Linked DNA regions of Homo sapiens: region 2 is linked to region 1. The links come from fine-mapping of genetic effects on gene expression. A gene starts in region 1. The other region holds a variant in brackets. All regions are shown on one strand. Distances are from middle to middle.

The links. PIP is the estimated chance that this variant, and not a neighbour inherited with it, causes the effect.
Region 2: its variant is fine-mapped to the expression of NMUR2 in tibial nerve (GTEx, PIP above 0.99).

The regions. Positions count from the first base shown.
Region 1 is chr5:152,400,594-152,410,417 of GRCh38, reverse strand. NMUR2 (neuromedin U receptor 2) reads left to right here and starts at 5,139. Exons shown (of 4, transcript NM_020167.5): 1 at 5,139-6,030. The coding sequence starts at 5,305.
Region 2 is chr5:152,495,648-152,505,471 of GRCh38, reverse strand. It overlaps the pseudogene RPL36AP20. Among named protein-coding and RNA genes, the nearest start is that of NMUR2, 95 kb to the right of the region's middle. The variant A/G (reference allele first, on the strand shown) is at 5,073.

The DNA.
Region 1 (9,824 bases):
CATGCCCCACTTTTTTCCTCTGAGTCTTCTTCAGGCAAACATCTCCACTTGCATCAAATCTTACCTACAAGATATTGAGCCCCTTGCTATTCTCACCATCTTCACATAGTTGGTAAGTACAGGTGCAAACCTTGGTGACCTGGGGAACAGATGTCTATATACTTTCCTAGAAGCTATTCTGACTTGCTATACTGCACTAAAAGTTAATTAAAAGCTGGAAGTACTCCTCATTTTAGCAGCTCCAAGCACATCTCCCAGTTTTTAAATCTTGTAATAGTCTTTCTGACCCCAATAAAAAGAAAGACATCCCCATCATGAAATTATCATTATTATTCAATTGCATATCCCATTATTAAATACTTATTTAAATATTATGTTATTTAAAATAATTTACACTGAATATTTTACCAGGAACGATTTAATTCTCCTAGAAATCCTGTAAAGCAATACTGCTATTTTACTCATTTTGCTGATGGAGTAACTGAGGCTTACAGAGTTTAATTATGTTCCTTATGGTCACATAGCTAGTAGGAGGCAGAACCAAGATTTGAATCCCAAAGCTACGCTGCAGTCCGTGCCTTTATTACTTCTATAGCATCTCCCTGCATTGAGCCTGCTACTACATTCTGTACTAGACATCATCCTTTTTGATTAGACCTACCCTGTCACAATGTGGAAATGCCTTTGAATTTTAGATTTGTTGCCTCATATATTAAGAAATATTGGCTGGGCACGGTGGCTCACACCTGTAATCTCAGCACTTTGGGAGGCCAAGGTGGGTGGATCATTTGAGGACATGAGTTCAAGACCAGCTTGGCCAACATGGCGAAACTCCATCTCTACTAAAAATATACAAATTAGCCAGGCATGCCTGTAGTGTGCATGCCTGTAGTCCCAGCCTGTAGTCCCAGCTACTTGGGAGCTACTGTGGTACATGCCTGTAGTCCCAGCTACTTGGGAGTTACTGTGGTGCATGCCTGTAGTCCCAGCTACTTGGGAGGCTGAAGCAGGAGAATCACTCGAACCCAGGAGGCAGAGATTGCAGTGAGTCGAGATTGCACCACTGCACTGTAGCCTGGGCAACAAAGTGAGAATCTGTCTCAAAAAAAACTACAGAACTACAAAACACTGCTGAAAGAAATCATCAATGACACAAACAAATGAAAACACATCCCATGCTCATGGAGAACAGAATCAATACTGTGAAAATGACCATACTGCCTAAAGCAATCTATAAATTCAATGCAATCCTCATCAAAATACCACCATCATTCTTCACAGAATTAGAAAAAACAATTCTAAAGTTCATAAGGAACGAAAAAAGAGCCACATAGCCAAAGAGAGGCTAAGCAAAAAGAATAAATCTGGAGGCATCACACTACTTGAGTTCAAACTACACTATAAGGCCATAGTCACCAAAACAGCATGGCACTGGTATAAAAATAGGCACAAAGACCAAAAGAACAGAATCGAAAATCCAGACATAAACCTAAATACTTATGGCCAACTGATCTTCAACAAAGCAAACAAAAACATAAAGTGGGGGAAAGGACTCCCTTTTCAACAAATGGTGCTGGGACAATTGGCTAGCCACATGTAGGAGAATAAAACTGGATCCTCATCTCTCACCTTATACAAAAATCAACTAAGATGGATTAAGGGCTTAAACCTAAGACCTGAAACTATAAAAATTCTAGACGATAACATTGGAAAAACCCTTCTAGACATTGGCTTAGGCAAGAAATTCATGACCAAAAACCCAAAAGCAATTGCAATAAAAACAAAGATAAATAGCTGGGAGCTAATTAAACTAAAGAGCTTTTTCATGGCAAAAGGAACAGTCAGCAGAGTAAACAGACAACCCACAGAGTGGGAGAAAATCTTCACAATCTATACATCTGACAAAGAACTAATACCCAGAATCTACAACAAACTCAAACAAATCAGTAAGAAAAAAAAATCCCATCAAAAAGTGGGCTAAGAACAGGAATAGACAATTCTCAAAAGAAGATATACAAATGACCAACAAACATATGGAAAAATGCTCAACATCACTAATAATCAGGGAAAGGCAAATCAAAATCACAGTGCGATACCACCTTACTCCTGCAAGAATGGCCATAATCAAAGCATCAAAAATCAGTAGATGTTGGTGTGGATGCGGTGATCAGGCAACACTTCTACACTGCTGGTGGGAATGTAAACTAGTACTGCCACTATGGAAAATAGTGTGGAGATTCCTTAAAGAACTAAAAGTAGATCTACCATTTGATCCAGCAATCCCACTACTGGGTGTCTGAGGAAAAGAAGTCATTATTCGAAAAAAATACTTGCACATGCCTGTTTATAGCAGCACAATTCGCAACAGTAAAATTGTGGAACCAACCTAAATGCCCATCAATCAGTGAGTGGATAAAGAAACTCTGATATATATTGATATATATGGATATATCATATATGGATATCCTATATATCCATATATATGGATATATCATATATAAATACTATATAATATATATTATATATAATATTATATATAATATATCTTATATATATTATATATAATATATATAATATACAATATAATATAATATATAATATAATATAATATAAATATAATATATAAATATATATCCATATATGGATATATAATATATAAATATATTTCCATACATATATATGAATACTACACAGCCATAAAAAGGAATGAATTAACAGCATTTGCAATGACCTGGGTGAGATTAAAGACTATTATTCTAAGTGGAGTAACTCAGGAATGGACAACCAAACATCATATGTTCTCACTGATATGTGGGAGCTAAGGTGTGAAGATGCAAACGCATAAGAATGATACAATGGACTTTGGGGACTTTAGGGGAAGAGAGGGAGGCAGGTGAGGGATAAAAGACAACAAATATGGTGCAGTGTATACTGCTTGGGTGATGGGTGCACCAGGTTCTCACAAATCTCTACTAAAGAACTTACTTGTGTAACCAAATACCACCTGTACCCCAGTAACTTATGGAAAAATATTTTTGTTAAAGAAAGAAATATTTTCCATCTTCCTCAGCGCTAAGTTTATAGTCTGCCACTGTGCACCCTTATAACGATCCTTACATCTAAATGAGATATTCTCATTAAACTTTTCCTATTTCATTAGAAAAATACGTTAAAGTTTGTAAATAGTGATTTTAACATCAAAACTTGCCTTTAACTAGAGGGCCCTAATTCTGGCTCTGCAATACCTATTACATGTCTGTAATTATTATTAATGTTATTGATCAATTTTTCCTACTTTTCCATCTTCTGTGCACATGCTAAGACAGCACTTCCTGACCCTGCTGTAGTCGAATGGGTACATATGATTAACCTTGGTCAATGAGCTGTGAGAAAAACTGGCAATGAGTTACTTACTTTTGGGCTAGAGCCTATAATTACCTACTTAAGACCATCCAGAGCTCTCTTTTCCTCTATCACAATGATAATCAAAATTCCAGAGAGTGACCACTGCATCAGCCTAGGTTTATGAGTGAGCATAGCATGAGACAGACCCTCAATACATTTGAAGTACAAGAGAAATAAATCTGTATTGTTTAAAACCACCAAGATATGTCAATCATTTGTTACAGCAGCGTAAACTATCTTAACTTGAGAGATGACTTATTCTTGGACAAGTCACTTTCCCTCTCTAATTTTTAACGTCATAATCTGATTTAACAAATAAAGGGAAAAAATTAACATTTAGTGAGCATCTCTTAAGTATAAGTTGCTTCGTTATATATAATTTAATTTAGTCTTCTCAATGACCATAAAAGGTATTATCTCCTGCAAAAATATTCCTAAATCCAAAGAAATCTCTCAACTCCACTGCTCATAGAATCCAAGCCACTACTATGTCTTACTAGCCTCTTACCTACCTTCTGTTAAAATTTCTCCCTCGTTAATTCTCCAGTGCAAAATCTTTTAAAGACTTCTCCCTGCCATTTGAATCAGAGCTAAACTCTCTTCCATGGCCTATAAGAGTTTACATGAACCTGTACCTGCCAGCCACTTCAATCTAAGCATTCATACTTTGCTGACCACTTATTAAATTCCAGTTATTCTGGTCTTCCTGATATTTTTAAAACCTATCCAGCTTGTTTCTGCCTCAGGACCTTTGCACTTGCTATTACTTTTGCTGAGTAATACACTTCCCTTAGCTCTTTCATGACTGACTTCATCATTCAGACCTCAGCTAAAGTGACATCTCCTGAGATAAGTTTTCTTTCACCATCCTTGATAAATAATTATTTATCAATTACTATCTGAAATTATATTATTAATTTATTCATTTGCTTGTGTGTTTTCAGAATTCCCTACTGCAAGAAAAGCTCCACTAGGGCAGAGACCTTGTCTTGCTTGTACACTAGTGTTTCTACAAAGCTTAGAACATTCCCTGGCAAATAGTGAATCCTCAAGAAGTTATTGTGGAACGCAATCGAATTAATGATGCAGATAAGGAAATAAGCCTCTAAGAGTTTGGGTAACTGTGCCAACTTTCCTAAATTTCTATGAGTGTTCCTAATTCTGAAGTCCATTTGCCTTTTGCTTACAGCAAAGCTCTGCTGAGACTGAAGAGTCAGTTAGCAGTCAGGGCTAGGCACTGTGCATGCGCCCTTTCAGGCTTCGGATTCTATCGTTGATGCAGTTAAAACCAAAAAGTCACATTAATCATGTTATCACATTAATCCCCAGAGAACCCTGAATTTCCAGTGGAACAAGATAACTTGAGAAATCTATTGATCTCCTATTTTCATCATGCTGTACGGCTGACAAGGGTTAGTGGAGATTGGTATTCTTTTGCCCATGGCCCTGCAACTTTAATTTCTATGTCTACCCAGATTCCCACAACTTTGCAACCTGCATTGCTCAAAGTGCCCATCCATGAAGTTCGAGTGGCTTCTTTTGTGTCAGCTCTGCCTTCCCAGCTCCTTCCCATTCAGGGAGAGGTCTCTGCCTCCTCCCCTGCTTCCTGACTCGAAGCCAGCACCCCTCTCCTCCAGTGCAGCCTAACACACTCTCATTGGCCCTCAGCCTGTCAAGGGGAGGGGCTTGTGTCTCCGGGGCTCTTCAAAAGGGATCGGCGGTCCAGGCAGCCTAACCTGGAGGGTGAAACACTCACTCTCTCCCAGCCTTCCTTACGAAGCCTGTGACTTTCGTGACTGCTTTCTCTTTTTTGTTTTCCTTTTTTCTTTTTTTTTTTTTTTTCCTGGCTCAGCTTGAAACAGAGCCTCGTACCAGGGGAGGCTCAGGCCTTGGATTTTAATGTCAGGGATGGAAAAACTTCAGAATGCTTCCTGGATCTACCAGCAGAAACTAGAAGATCCATTCCAGAAACACCTGAACAGCACCGAGGAGTATCTGGCCTTCCTCTGCGGACCTCGGCGCAGCCACTTCTTCCTCCCCGTGTCTGTGGTGTATGTGCCAATTTTTGTGGTGGGGGTCATTGGCAATGTCCTGGTGTGCCTGGTGATTCTGCAGCACCAGGCTATGAAGACGCCCACCAACTACTACCTCTTCAGCCTGGCGGTCTCTGACCTCCTGGTCCTGCTCCTTGGAATGCCCCTGGAGGTCTATGAGATGTGGCGCAACTACCCTTTCTTGTTCGGGCCCGTGGGCTGCTACTTCAAGACGGCCCTCTTTGAGACCGTGTGCTTCGCCTCCATCCTCAGCATCACCACCGTCAGCGTGGAGCGCTACGTGGCCATCCTACACCCGTTCCGCGCCAAACTGCAGAGCACCCGGCGCCGGGCCCTCAGGATCCTCGGCATCGTCTGGGGCTTCTCCGTGCTCTTCTCCCTGCCCAACACCAGCATCCATGGCATCAAGTTCCACTACTTCCCCAATGGGTCCCTGGTCCCAGGTTCGGCCACCTGTACGGTCATCAAGCCCATGTGGATCTACAATTTCATCATCCAGGTCACCTCCTTCCTATTCTACCTCCTCCCCATGACTGTCATCAGTGTCCTCTACTACCTCATGGCACTCAGAGTGAGTATCTAGGCTGGGGTGGCCTGAGGCAGCATCCCTTCTTTTTTCACAGGCTCAAAGTTCAGAGAAAAACTTAGAATTGGGGAAATTCAGAAATGGAAGGGAACAGAGGGAAAATAGAATGAGCTCAGATGGGAAATTGAGACTTAAAAGGACTTGCCTCAAATGAGATGAATGGTAACCACAACTATTTATCATTTCCTTTAGCTCGTCTTCTATTTTTCTTCCCTCTATTCTTGGGGTTCTCGTATCTAAATGTTCCTAAGAATCATGCAGAAAACTTACTTTGGGAGCAATATGCATACCTCACCCCCAGGAAAATGGGATTCAGAAGGTCTGAGGTGGAGCCTCATTTTAAATAAGCACATCAGGTGATCTGGGGTGAGGTGGCCACACTTTGAGAGACTTCTCCACATCCTGTTGTCACTTTCCAGCCCCTGGCCACTGCCTGCATTGAGATTTTCCTGTACACCAACTTGGTCTGAGTATAACACAAACTATCCCTGCCTATTTTGTAGTCCAAGATAGGTATTCAGTTTTAAAATCAGACATTTACTGTGGTTGCTCCGACCCTTTCATTAAAATGAGGTTGAAACAAAACAAAATAAAACTATATATATTATATGTATAGTTACATATATAATATATAGTCATATATATAATATATAGTTATATATAATATATAATCATATATATTAATGACATGACTGAGATAACTTGAGCTTCTTTTGAGCAGGTGCAGATTGAGAGATAAGGAAGTAAACAGCACATGAGATAGAGTGAAAAAATGTGAATAAGAGCTTATCTGAAATTAAGAAAAAGATATCACTTATTTTGCAACATATATAATTAGAGGTTCTTTTCCTATGTTTATGGTGGTAAACTGATTTCTTTTTCAGAAGGGGGGTGTCTAAATTAGCTGAGAGAAACTATTTTTAATAAGGGTAGGAATTAGTCTATATAATTCCTCTCTGGTATATTCTGCACCCAAATTCATGAAGAGAAAAGTTCTTCACAATGACAATTTTACACCCACTTAAGGGAGGTATTATAGCTTGTGTAGTAAACAGTTACGAGACCATTTAGACTCCCAGATCTACAGCTGACATATAATATGCCTTTAGGCAAGCCACATCATTCTCCTGGAATTAGTTTTCCCGTGTATAAAATGAAAAGGTCACATCAGATCCTATCTATGTCCCCTGTAGCTCTAACAGTCTATTATTCCTTTAAAAAAAGAAAAAAAAACACCTGTGAGCTGAAGTAATGTGAGTTTTAAATGACAGGACAAACAGATATCACATTCACATCATTTGCTTTGAGATGGCTCTGACATCACACTTTATGTGACAACTAATATACTCCTATTTCAGTCCATCTCTGAGAAGCCGATTGTCAGAAGCGAGTGCCCAATGGTAGTCCTTTTGAATACCTATTGTCCCTAAGGTGAATAGCGAGGTCTAAGTAGGAAGAACAAATTCTAAGTGTCACGGACATCTGGGCACAAGAGTAAATCTAATTAGGCAGAGAGCTGTGCCAGTCCCCTCCTGGAGGGCTAGCACCTGTATTCCCAGAGACATGTCCCACCCCGCACTAGCTCACAGCCATGTCTTAAGAACGTCCTGCACATCTCACTGCGGGGAAAAGACTTCTATACAACTCCAAAGAAAGTCTTATGAGAAATACCCACCCACTTAATATTACCTCATCCAATGCCAAACAGTCACCTATTTTGGGTCAATTTGGGAAAAATATTTAACTTTGAGTAGGAAATGCACAGTTCCTCTTCCAATCTGTTACAATCAGTTTCATTGTGTTTTATTATCAAAAGTCCATGGCTACCTTGTATCAGGAGGTAAGTGACAGCTCAGACAAAAGTTTAAAAACCACCCTGGTTTGCTTTGTGTATGTAATGCAACTTTTGACAGCCTGTTTTCAGGAAGGATGAGCTGTTATCCAGGGTACCAGAGGACACCAGGAAAGAAACTAACGCTTACAAAGTCACTTCTAGAAGAATTTAAAAATCTCTATACTGAAACTCAGGAAAAGTAGGCCCTATTCTGTGTCACTGATCGCAGGGCCTTTATGTACACTATACCTGTAGCCTGAAATGTTCCTACTGTCTGCCACCACTCCCCCTTTTGCCTTTCTAACCCTCATTTATTCTCTGTGTCATACTTCAACACGCTTCCTCAGGGAAGCTCTCCCAGATTCCCTGAGCATCCCTGTTTCCTGTTGTAGGTACTCATGGCTCTCCGTGATTTTCCTTCATTACAATTTATATTTCCATACTTATGGATTCCTTAATTAATTGTTTTCTCCCCAACTAGACTGTAAGCTCAGTGAATGAATGAGGCCAAATTACTTCCTTCATTGCTGGGCTTTAGCTTCTCTACCTTTAAAACAAAGACTTGGAAATATCATCTCAAGGAGACCCAAGCAATCCTAATGATTAAGTGAGTGACTCTGTTGGATAGTTTGAAGGTATGATTGACTCTGGGACCCACTGCTTTCAGAAGGCAGCAAGCCCAAGACTGATGAAATCACAGGACCAGAGAAGAAGGAGGAAACCCATATCTGTGCTCACAGCTCGGCATTCAGTCACGCTGCATCATTCCAGGACACAGCCACCACTGAGCTGTTCTCCAGGCTTTGAACATTATAGAGATAGAAAATAGACAATTCTAGGGCAAGTCCCTCCACATGTGGGAGGAAGTTCTGGTGACAGTCTGATTTAGTTCTTACATCTCCTGCATGCTGCATTCATGATTGAGGTGATGAGGATGGATGTATGAATTGCAGCAGAATTCAACCATGCCAACACAGGGTTGCACTAATTTTTTTAAGTAAATAGATTGTGTTAAGATTATAGAGATATTTACACAAAACCTATATTATAATCTGGTATTCTGAAACTAAGTCCCACAAACTATATAAATGAACATCTGGTAGAGTGATTTCAGGCAGTATAAACAACTGATCAGCATAATGTATCAACCTGAATAATAACCTCGCGAACCTCCCTTTCACTTTGCTCTTCTGTAGCTAAAGAAGGTAATCACAATTTTTAGTAATCACACTATATAGTAATGGTAATCACAACTTTTAGTAATCACAATATTTAGTAATAGTAATCACAAATTTGCACTCCTCCTTTTGTAACCTGAGTTGTAAAATAAAAGTTTTGGGGTGGGGAAGAATAATGAATGGTTGAATATCTACTTTACTAAACATCTGTAGGGAAGTGAAATTATTCAACGATAAAGCAGCATTGAATATTGGCTAGACTAACTGTTTTGATTCTATTCTATTCTGTCAACCACTCCAAATTCTGTTGGAACAATGTACACCATATGTAAGTAATCAATTTTTCACTCTTCCTCTAGTTAGCTAGTTAGGTCATTATAAACTAAGGAAGCTGCAAAATAAGCAACAATTCATCAGCACATGATTTTCTTTTTAGTGTAAACTATGCTGCTACAGGAAGCCTGTTCATAAAAGAATTGCGTGAACTATTTGTTTGATGTTTGATTTTTTTAAAAATTGTTCCTTGGGGTGGAGAAATTACCATTGAGAACTGTTAAACACAAGGCAGGAAGTGACTAATATATCTCAATATTTTTTATTGTTCTTAATTATGAACTGAAATAAAATAATAGAATAACTGCATAATGTAAAAACCACAATCTTTAAGTGGCATGAAGTAATTAGAACCTTTAATAGATTTAATCTAAGATGAGTTAGTAAAGTTTGAAGTTTGATACATTGCTCTAACCTTGAATGTGTTTTTCTTC
Region 2 (9,824 bases), 95 kb before region 1:
AATTATGATCCCTGTCCAGTTTCCAGGCCTGAGCATTCTCACACCCAGAACCCATTGACTGAAGAAGTAGGCAAGTCTCCTATGAGGAAAAGACACTGCAACATCACGAGAAGTATATATAGCAGTGATTTCAACCAGCTCTTCCCCAGAAATACCTATCACCATTTTCTTGGGTGACAAAACACTGGGGTAAAGGGACTATTCAATTCATTTGAGGGCTGCTGGATACAGGGTCTGGGTTAATTAATACTGATATTAATTACTGATATCCAAAGAAGTGAAGCAGTATTATGTCCTACCTATGAGACTCAGGGATTAAGTAAATAATAAATGGATTTCTAGCTCAGGTTTCTTAAGTCTCTCCCATGACCACCAGTTGGTCTGTAGATCCAAGACCCTGGATCTACAGACCAACTGGTGGTCATGTCCCTAGATCCCAAGTGTTTTATTAGAAAGGACACAATTAGCAGTTGGCAGAACCTTCACATTTCTTTCTTAACCTGTAGGATAAGAACTATCATAATAGGAAAGATTAGGCTATAGCCACAAAAACTACTCCCATGTCTAGCTAAGATGATAAATCAAAAACAGCATTGCACACAGGTGGCATGACAGATTAACATCATTCTCAAAGACATAAAGGTATAATCTTGGCACTATTGGGGGCCAAGATGGGAGGATTGCTTGATCCCAGGAGTTTGAGACCAGCCTGGGCAACATAGAGACCTCATCGCTACAAAAATTTAAAAATTTAACCAGGCTTGGTGGCGCATGCCTGTAGTCCCAGTTACTCAGGAGGCTGAGGTAGGAGAATTGCTAGAACCTGGGAGATCGAGGCTGCAGTGAGCTGTGATTATGCCACTGCACTCCAGCCTCGGTGACAGAGTAAGACCCTGTCTCCCCCTAACCCAAAAAAGACATAAAGGATGTAGGAATGATAGTCTCCCTCATAATCTTACATAATTAATCAGTCTCATCCCTGCCAAAAAAAAAAAAAAAATGGACCCTGGCAAAACAATAGTGGGTTAAACAATAAATTTCCCAAGCAGAAGTCTCCACTGGGTCTTCTGTGCTGAATGTGATACCTTTACTGAAACAGGTGAGCACAGCCTTGGGTCTGTGGTGTGTGGTTAATAAATTATTTCCCCTGCTCATTAGAAGAGCTTCTCCTAATACTGGAGCATCTCTTGATACTCCTGTGCCTAACTCTTACTCTAAATGGGAAAGTTGATCAAGCACAGCCTGATAAAGGCATGATAACCAGCTCTTCAGACATATTAGAGATGAGGATCAGCCTAAGGCAAGCCACCTATACCTGAGAAGTGCTAGCGGAGAGGGAAAGGAGTCTAGGATCGGGGGCAGAGAAAGGAGTTGAGTATGTTTCAGCTCAGGACTAACTACTGCAGCAGGTGCTGTAGTTCATCCCACTAATCCTTCTCTTAAAAATTTCCCAGGACTCGGCTGGGTGTGGTGACTCACGCCTGTAATCCCAGCACTTTGGGAGGCCGAGGCGGGAAGATCACTTGAGGCCAGGAGTTTGAGACCAGCCTGGCCAACATGGTGAAACCTCGTCTCTACTAAAAATATAAAAATTAGCCAGGCATGGTGGTGGGCGCCTGTAATCCCAGCTACCTGGGAGGCTGAGGCAGAAGAATCACTTGAACCCGGGAGGCAGAGGTTGCAGTCAGCCGAGATCATACCACTGCACTCCAGCCTGGGTGACAGAGTGAGACTCCATCTCAAAAAAATAAAAAATAAAAAATAAAAAAATCCCCAGGACTCTTGAACCCAGAATCCTGGAGAGGCCATAACTGGATAAAATGAATGTCATATGAGAAGCAAGTGGTTCTGAGCAATGTGTAGGGAGGACTACAGAAGGCACCACAACACCCTATCCAGCCCGGCCTGGGTGTGCCCTGGGCTGGCATACCCAGACCCCAGCCTCTGTGAGGCGCTGGCTGATTGCTCACTCTGTGCCTCTCCTCTGGAGAACTGTCCCAGCTGACAAGAGTGGCCTCCCCCAGAAAGTTTTGCATGCAACACCTTCTGGAGGTAGCCCACAGCCAATGGCTGACTCATATGTAGTACGAAGGGCTCACCCCTTTGCCTCAAAGTGTGAGGACTCTGCAGGACAACTCCCTGGGCAGTTTATGCTCTGGAATTCCCCACATCCTCACAGATCAGGTCAAGATTAGGCTTCATGTGGGGCCACATTCTTCTCCCCTACTTCCCCTTGGTGCTTCACTCTCTTTTGTAAGTTTACACCTGAATCCTGGTCTGAGGCTCTGTTTCTATGAGACTTGCCCTAAGACACATGGTTTAAATAAGACATAGGTCTTTGGGGCCCCCAAAGAAGAATTCAGGGACTAGGCAGTTTCAGTGTGATATTAGAGCAGCCCCCAAGTCAGAGACCCAGGCTCCTCTTTCTTCCCTTCAACCTTACTTCATGGCTGCTGCCATCACACCCACATTCCACCTAACAGAAAGTCAGGGTGAGATAGCAGCCGAAGTGTGCACCTCATCATGCTTAGTCTTGCTTAGAAGCTTTCATGGACACCCTATTTGATGGCTTTGTTCACATCTAGTGGCCGCAGCCCCCATCAGTAAGAGAAACTGGGAAAGGTAAGCTTTCAGCTAGCCACATAGATGCTACCCATTAACAGCCTATTAGAAAGGAAGATGGGAGAGCAGAGATGCTGGCAGTCTCTGCTACGGGCCCTACAGTCTCTGCTACTATGGCAATGGGGCCTGACACAAGGATTGAAACCTCCTAAGACAGTAGTCTTTTATAGATCACCTCACCAGAGTCACAACTGATCAGGAAGTATGGTGAGAAGAGTATATTTACCTAGTAGAAGTAAAGAAACAATAATATGTGGAACCAGACATGGCTCCCGGGCAGTCTGGGACCTATTCATGGGTTCGTGTATCTAATTCTAGACCATAGAGGTAGGGATAGGTAAGTGCCTTTTGATCCCAAATTCTTCCTATGAAAGCCACTTTTTCTCACCCTCAAGGCATATGCTTTGTTCTCTAAGTAGAACTTGCTGCATAAAGCCTTAACAAAAATGCCCAGGGCTCAGCAGAGCTTACATTTTATTTATTGTACAACTTTTAAATGCTACAGATTCATCCTCAGTACAACTAATTATCATATCAATGAAATCACGGTAGAATTACCAGAACCACTTTCTCTGTCCAAAGAAGACTCAATAAGGAAAATAATTATATCAAATTTCTGCTTAACATAAAAAAGTTAACCCCAAACTGTTTTTTCCCCCAAAGATTCATTAAACCTTGAGGACCAAAAAATAGCTGAAGAGCTTTAATGTATAGTAACATTTTTCTGAATAATCTTATCACCATTTCTTGAATTTGAGAATCTTCTATCCTATAATTCTACCTCTCCAAGTCCTAATAATGTGCCCATTCCAAACAGATCACTTCAGGAATAATCACACCAGCCATAACTACATAATACAGCCATTCAGTACAGGGAGTAAAATCACTGTTATAAATGAATCACAGGCCGGGCGTGGTGGCTCACGCCTGTAATCCCAGCACTTTGGGAGGCCAAGGTGGGTGGATCACGAGGTCAGGAGATTAAGACCATCCTGGCTAACACAGTGAAACTCCGTCTCTACTAAAAATACATAAAATTAGCCGGGCGTGGTGGTGGGCGCCTGTAGTCCCAGCTATTTGGGAGGCTGAGGCAGGAGAATGGCGGGAACCCAGGAGGTGGAGGTTGCAGTGAGCCGAGATCGCGCCACAGCACTCCAGCCTGGGTGACAGAGCGAGACTCCATCTCAAAAAAATAAAATAAAATAAATAAAATAAAAAAATAAAAAGGAATCACAATATCTTTGTGAAATAGAAAAAAAAGTGTATGCAATTAATATTGTTTTTAGAATTGAAGGCAAAATTGTAAGTCATGTGCTAGAGGTCAGATAAAACAAAGAACTGAAACTTCCTGGTTTCTGTTTCCAGGCCCTGGTCAATATTTTCTTGACTTTTGCTTTTTATTTACACCTTACTCTATGTGGCAGAATCCGCAACTATCCTCTAGTATCCATGTTTCCTTTTGTCTTTTCAGTATAGAATCTCCTGAGGTTTTTTTTTTTTTATTCATTTTTGGTTTTTAAATAGAGACAGGGTCTTGCTCTGTCACCCACACTGGAATGCAGTGGTACAATCATAGCTCACTACAGCCTGAAACTCCTGGGAGCAAGTGGTCCTCCCAAAGTGCTGGAATCATAGGAATGAGCCATCATGGCTGGCCCACTCTCTTGAGTTTTCTCCAGGAACATGGATGGCTGCCCAGGTAAAGGTGGCATTTTCCATCCCAGGCACCTGAACAAATTTGGAAGGAAGTGATATGCAAAACTTCCAGTTACATTCTCTTTTTTTTTTTTTTTTTTTTTTGAGACGGAGTCTTGCTATTCTTAAAGATGTAAAGATGGAGCTGCTTTCCACTGATGCTCTGACGGCTGGCTGACAAATGAAGATCATAGCAACCCTGGAAGTCTCGTGCTAAGGATTAAAGATCACAGAGCAATGCTACTAGCCTCAGACCACTCACCTCTGAACTTGTGTGTGCAACAGAAGATATTTTATATTATCTAAGCTACCATACTGAATAATTTCTTTTTCCTCTTAATACATTTCACCCAATCTCAGACATCAGTCAAAAAAGAAGCCTTACTCTAAGGCTCATTTAAAGTGAAAGGAGTTCAGAGGGACCCAAAGGCAAGATAACTAGAAATTATGTTCCAGGGTGGGGCTGGGTGGGGAAGGGAACCATCTGAAAGAAATGAGAATATGTATATAACTTGAGGAAGGAAAAAAAAAAAAAAGGACACCAGAGGAATTCTCTTAATATTCTTTAAGGATCATTGTGTGTGAAAAGAATTACACTTATGCTCATATAGAACAAGGAAATAAAGTGAGATTAATTTTCAGAAGCCCAATAGAAACAAATTTCAGTCCCTTTAAAGGAAGAGCTTTCTCATAATCGCAACAACCCACAGATATTCAGGAATGTCCCGGGTAGTAATGAGTTTCCTGTCCCTGGA[A/G]GGTAATAATGAGTTCCCTAACACTGGAAGTATGCAAGCAAAATTTTATGTGAGAGAGGGTGGAGCAAAGGTCATGACTCAGACAGAACAAGTCCTAATTCTTTCTGTGTCCAGTTATCAATTGTTGTTTAATAACATGTATCAGCCAAGTCTTCATTTGTAAAATGGGGTTAATTTTAATATTTATGTGATAGAGTTATAAATAACAAAAGATAAGATGCATATGAAAAACTTCCAAAGGAGATGCTAGATGATGCTATTTGGTGGGGATATTTAAGTGGGGTTTAATCATTAGCTAGGGAAAGAGGAAAGAATGGCACGATAAACGGTCCTAAGAGTCTGTGATTCTGAAATATAAATTTCCCTTTCAGTGATTTATAACCATGATGCATAATGAAAACATCTAGCTAACAAAGTAAGCAAATTGTTCCTCCCATTGTGGGAGAGATTTATTTTTTCAAGAATAATTAAATTGAGTGGCCCTTTAGTCACTCTCCACCTACCATTCCACACCCATAGGAATACTCAGAACATTTCAGCCTCCTTGTTGGATGAGAGAATTATAACTTCTGGATACTCCCAGAAGTTCTTCCATGCCTGTTTTCCTATTTATACTTGTATTGAGACAGCCAAGTATAAAGGGGTGCCCGGAGAAACTCCGATCAGCCTGCACACTGGGAGAACGCAGTGGAGCCATGGAAATTCGCGCCCTTTGCAGGCGATAGGAGCCTGGCCTCTCCTGTTCCAGGGTGGTAACCTGGAATTCAAACTGTGAGGCAGGAAGCCTACTAGCAGGACTTGCTTTGCTGAGAGTCCCTGTTTTCTTTTATACCTTTTCATCCAATAAACGCTGCCCTTCTCACCCTTCCAAGTGTCTGCAAGCCTAATCTTTCATGGCTGTGTGACAAGAACCCAGCCTTTAGCTGAACTAAGGAGAAAGTCCTACAACAATATTTGGTCCAAACTTTGGAGTATGCAAGGGGTTCTGAAAGACAAAAGGTGTCTGATACAGAGGAAATACTAAGACCTGGGAGTTGAGAGGCAAGTTTGAGTCTAATGGCTGACACTGACTCCCGGATCTTGAACAAGTTTCTACCTCTTTAGAATTGTTATCCAAGCCTGAAATACAATAGGGTTGGGAAAGATCATGTAGGGACGCTTCCAGGTTCAGATCCTATTGTTTAAATTCAAAGGAGTAGGATAACCCACTCTTGAAAGCCTGGATCACACCTTCGAGTTCAAAAGCTACTGAAGCCCCAGGGTATAAGATCTAGGACAATATCCTTGTGAACCTAGAATGTACAACATTGCCATCTGACAGAAATAAGTTTTGTGAACAGATAGAAATAATCTCTCTTCTCATTAGAGCAACAGAGCCAAAAATACGGATATCCAGGCTTTTAAATTTCCTAAGAATTATATCCTGGTGTGTAGGCAGGGGTTGTTCATATAGAACCAAGAAATGCCAGTTCAGAGATGACCTCTCTTAGGTACTATGAATGATGGCTAAGACTATGGTGTGGCATCTGGAGTGAGTCAAACCTGTGTTTAAATCCAAGTCCTGCTACACGCATTTTAGGTAACCCTAAAGAAGTAATATTTCAGGCCTCAACTTTCTTCCCTGAAGAATGGCCATCTTATTTTTGTTTGTCTTTAAGTGAATTAAATAAGGTCATGAATGTAAAACTCTTAGTACTTTGCCTGGCAATTTGCCCACTGGATTCTTATCTATTTGAGGGTAGGAACTACGATAGTATTCCAAGAATGTCGCCCTTACATGATACATAGTAAGTGCTCAAGAAACTTTGAAATATCTGACACCACATGCCCCAAAGGTCTACTGAGTTGCCCTGAACAATGAAAATTTCTCTCTTCTTTAATTACCTGATACCTGTTTGGTCCAGTAGATCAAGAAGAGAGACAGTATTACTGTTCTTAGATCCATTTTTCCTCTACATCTGCCTTTATGTCATTTACCATATGTACTATATATGCATGGCACTTGGGCCCCACTATATGGTGCAAATTGATATCACTATGCTTTGTCATATTCAAAGCTTCCTGCCTTATGATCCTGTAATTTTTAGATTTTGATTTTTGAGTGTTATGTATATTCTTCATTTGTTTAGACACTGATGGAATTTAGCACAAGTAGTGTCAATCAGATACGGTAGTAAAACTTATAAGTAACTTGAAGTCTCATTAGAATTATAACATAGGCTCTCACTGCACTACCATCCCAAATTGAGTGCTAAGGAAGCTCTAAGTTTATAGATACATTTTCTACCCAGTCAATCATCATTTATGAGAATTGTGCTATTTCACAGAGCTGGAATTTTACATAAGCCAATTGAGACACACTTCTATCAAGACAATTATGACTATAATACCAAAAGACCACTTTTTCAATAATCAACATCATCATTATAATTAGTCAACAAAAAGGGACACTTGCAAACTAGTGAGCTTTTATAGCCAGGATGTTATTAAATATGAATCCCAAAAGGACAAGTGCATAGAAGAATGAACAATGTGTTCCATTAAAAACAGTAATTTGTTGACAAATTCTGCACATAATGATGTATAATTATGAAAACCAATTTGGCTTTGCTATTAGAAAAATCTTTTTTGCAAGTTTAGGATTCTTTTTCACATCTTTGCAAATATTGAAAAACAGTTTTCTTTTTCCAAATGGAAGTGTTTATATATAAATTACTTTTAATTTGTATAAAATTATACTTGCACTTTATATTAAGATCATGTCACTGGGTGAAAATATAGAAATCCTTTCTTATTATCTAGACCTGTCCTGCTCAGTATGGTAGCCATTAGTCACATATGGCTACTGGTTACTTCACAAGTGGCTACCAAAACTGAGGAATTAAGTTTTTATATTTTAACTGAGTCAATTTTAAGTTTTAAAACTGAAGCAATATAAAATATTTTTCAATTAAACATAACTACATTATTGTACATTTCTCTTTAACTATTAAAAATTTAGTGTCTGAATTGAGCTTTGCCAAAAGTGAAATGTATACACAAAATTTCAAAGATTAAATATTAAGAACAATGGAAAATATCTTCATGTTACGATGATTACTTGTTGAAACAGTAACATTTGGGTATGTTCAATTAAATAGAACGTATTTTTTTCTATGTATTTTCACTGTTTTTTAATGTGGCTACTAGTAAATTTCAAGTTACGTATGTGGTTCATATTGTATCTGGACTTAACAGCATTGATCTTTCCACTTAGAAAAATCTACTTTTCCATGATCTACTTCCTGTAATGGCAGTGAAGCTTTTATCAAATTTATTCATTCACAGACAAGATTTATAAACACTAGACAAAACAGAAAATACAACAAAAACAACTGTTTTTTTGAAGGCCTGAAGAAACATTGAAAGCAAGATGAAATTGAAAGTTGGCCTTTGAAGGAAGGGCACTGCCCTGGATAAGATTCAGGTGTAGTAAGCTTTGCACCTGTGGACATTACCCAATCTGCAGGAAAATGAATGGAAAGAATTCAGGAAGAAAGTCAAAGGCATAGGAATGGAAGTAAGGCCATAGAGTTTAGAGCTGCCAAAATAGCTAGAAAGTGAAGGGGAAAATTTAGAAAAGGAGGAAGCCCCTAAATCTACATCTGAATACCTGTCAAATCCTTGGCTAAACTGTAAATACAAATTCAGGGGACTCCAAGTTTCAGACTGTAAAACATTATCTGTGAGGCTGGAGGAACTGAGCAGAGATCTCAGATTTCATCCACTTCAAGAGAGACAATTGGTGTTTAGGTGGACTGCCTATCAGAAAAAAAACAAACATCCTTTAGAAGAAAACTGAATCACAGTCTCTACCATGTTTCCTTTAGAACATGTAGTATAGAATAAACTAGTAAACTCACAAAAGAACATGTAATCCACAGTCAAGAGAAAAAGCAGTCAATAGGTACTGAACTTGAAATGTTCAAGATGTTGGAATTTGCAAACAAGGACTCAAAAGGTATATTAAATCGATGTTTCAAAAAGTAAAGACAAATATGTCATAATGAATAAAGAAGGCAGGGAAACTAGGCAGAAAAATGAAAGCTAAACAAAAGAAAAAAATGAAAATTCCACAGCCAAAGAGTAAAATATCATGAAAATTTATTTGAAAAGGCGTTACAAGAGTACTGGAGACAAGGGGAAAAAAAGATCAGTGAATGTAGAGAGAGATTATCTTCTGTAGATTAGTATCTGAAGGTAGATTGGATCTTAGTAGAAATTATCCAATCTGGAGAACAGAGAGAATAAAGACTGAAAATAAATCAGAAGCTCAGAGGCTTATGGGATAATAATAAGTGTTCTAAAATGTATGCAACAGCTCCCAGGCTGTAGTACTTGAGAAAACATGAGAACATTCCTAAAAGAAATGTGACAAGCATCAACACCGTGAAGACACACAATACAAGGAGATCAAGGAATTTGGTATGCCTAGCTTCATTCTGACAGGAAGCAGAGCAGGCTATGGTGGGCAGACCAAGCAGATTTTCTGGAAAAGTCTCTGTAAAACTACAAAGAAGATTGTGATGAGGCTTAAATGTGTTGAGCCCAAATGCAGATCTAAGAGAATGCTGACTATTAAGAAATGCAAGAATTTTAAATTAGGGAGAGATGAGAGAAAAAGCCAAATGATCCAGTTCTAAACTTCATCTTTTGTTTTATTATGAAGACAATACAATATTGAGTTCACTTCAGAGAGTGTATGTGCATGTG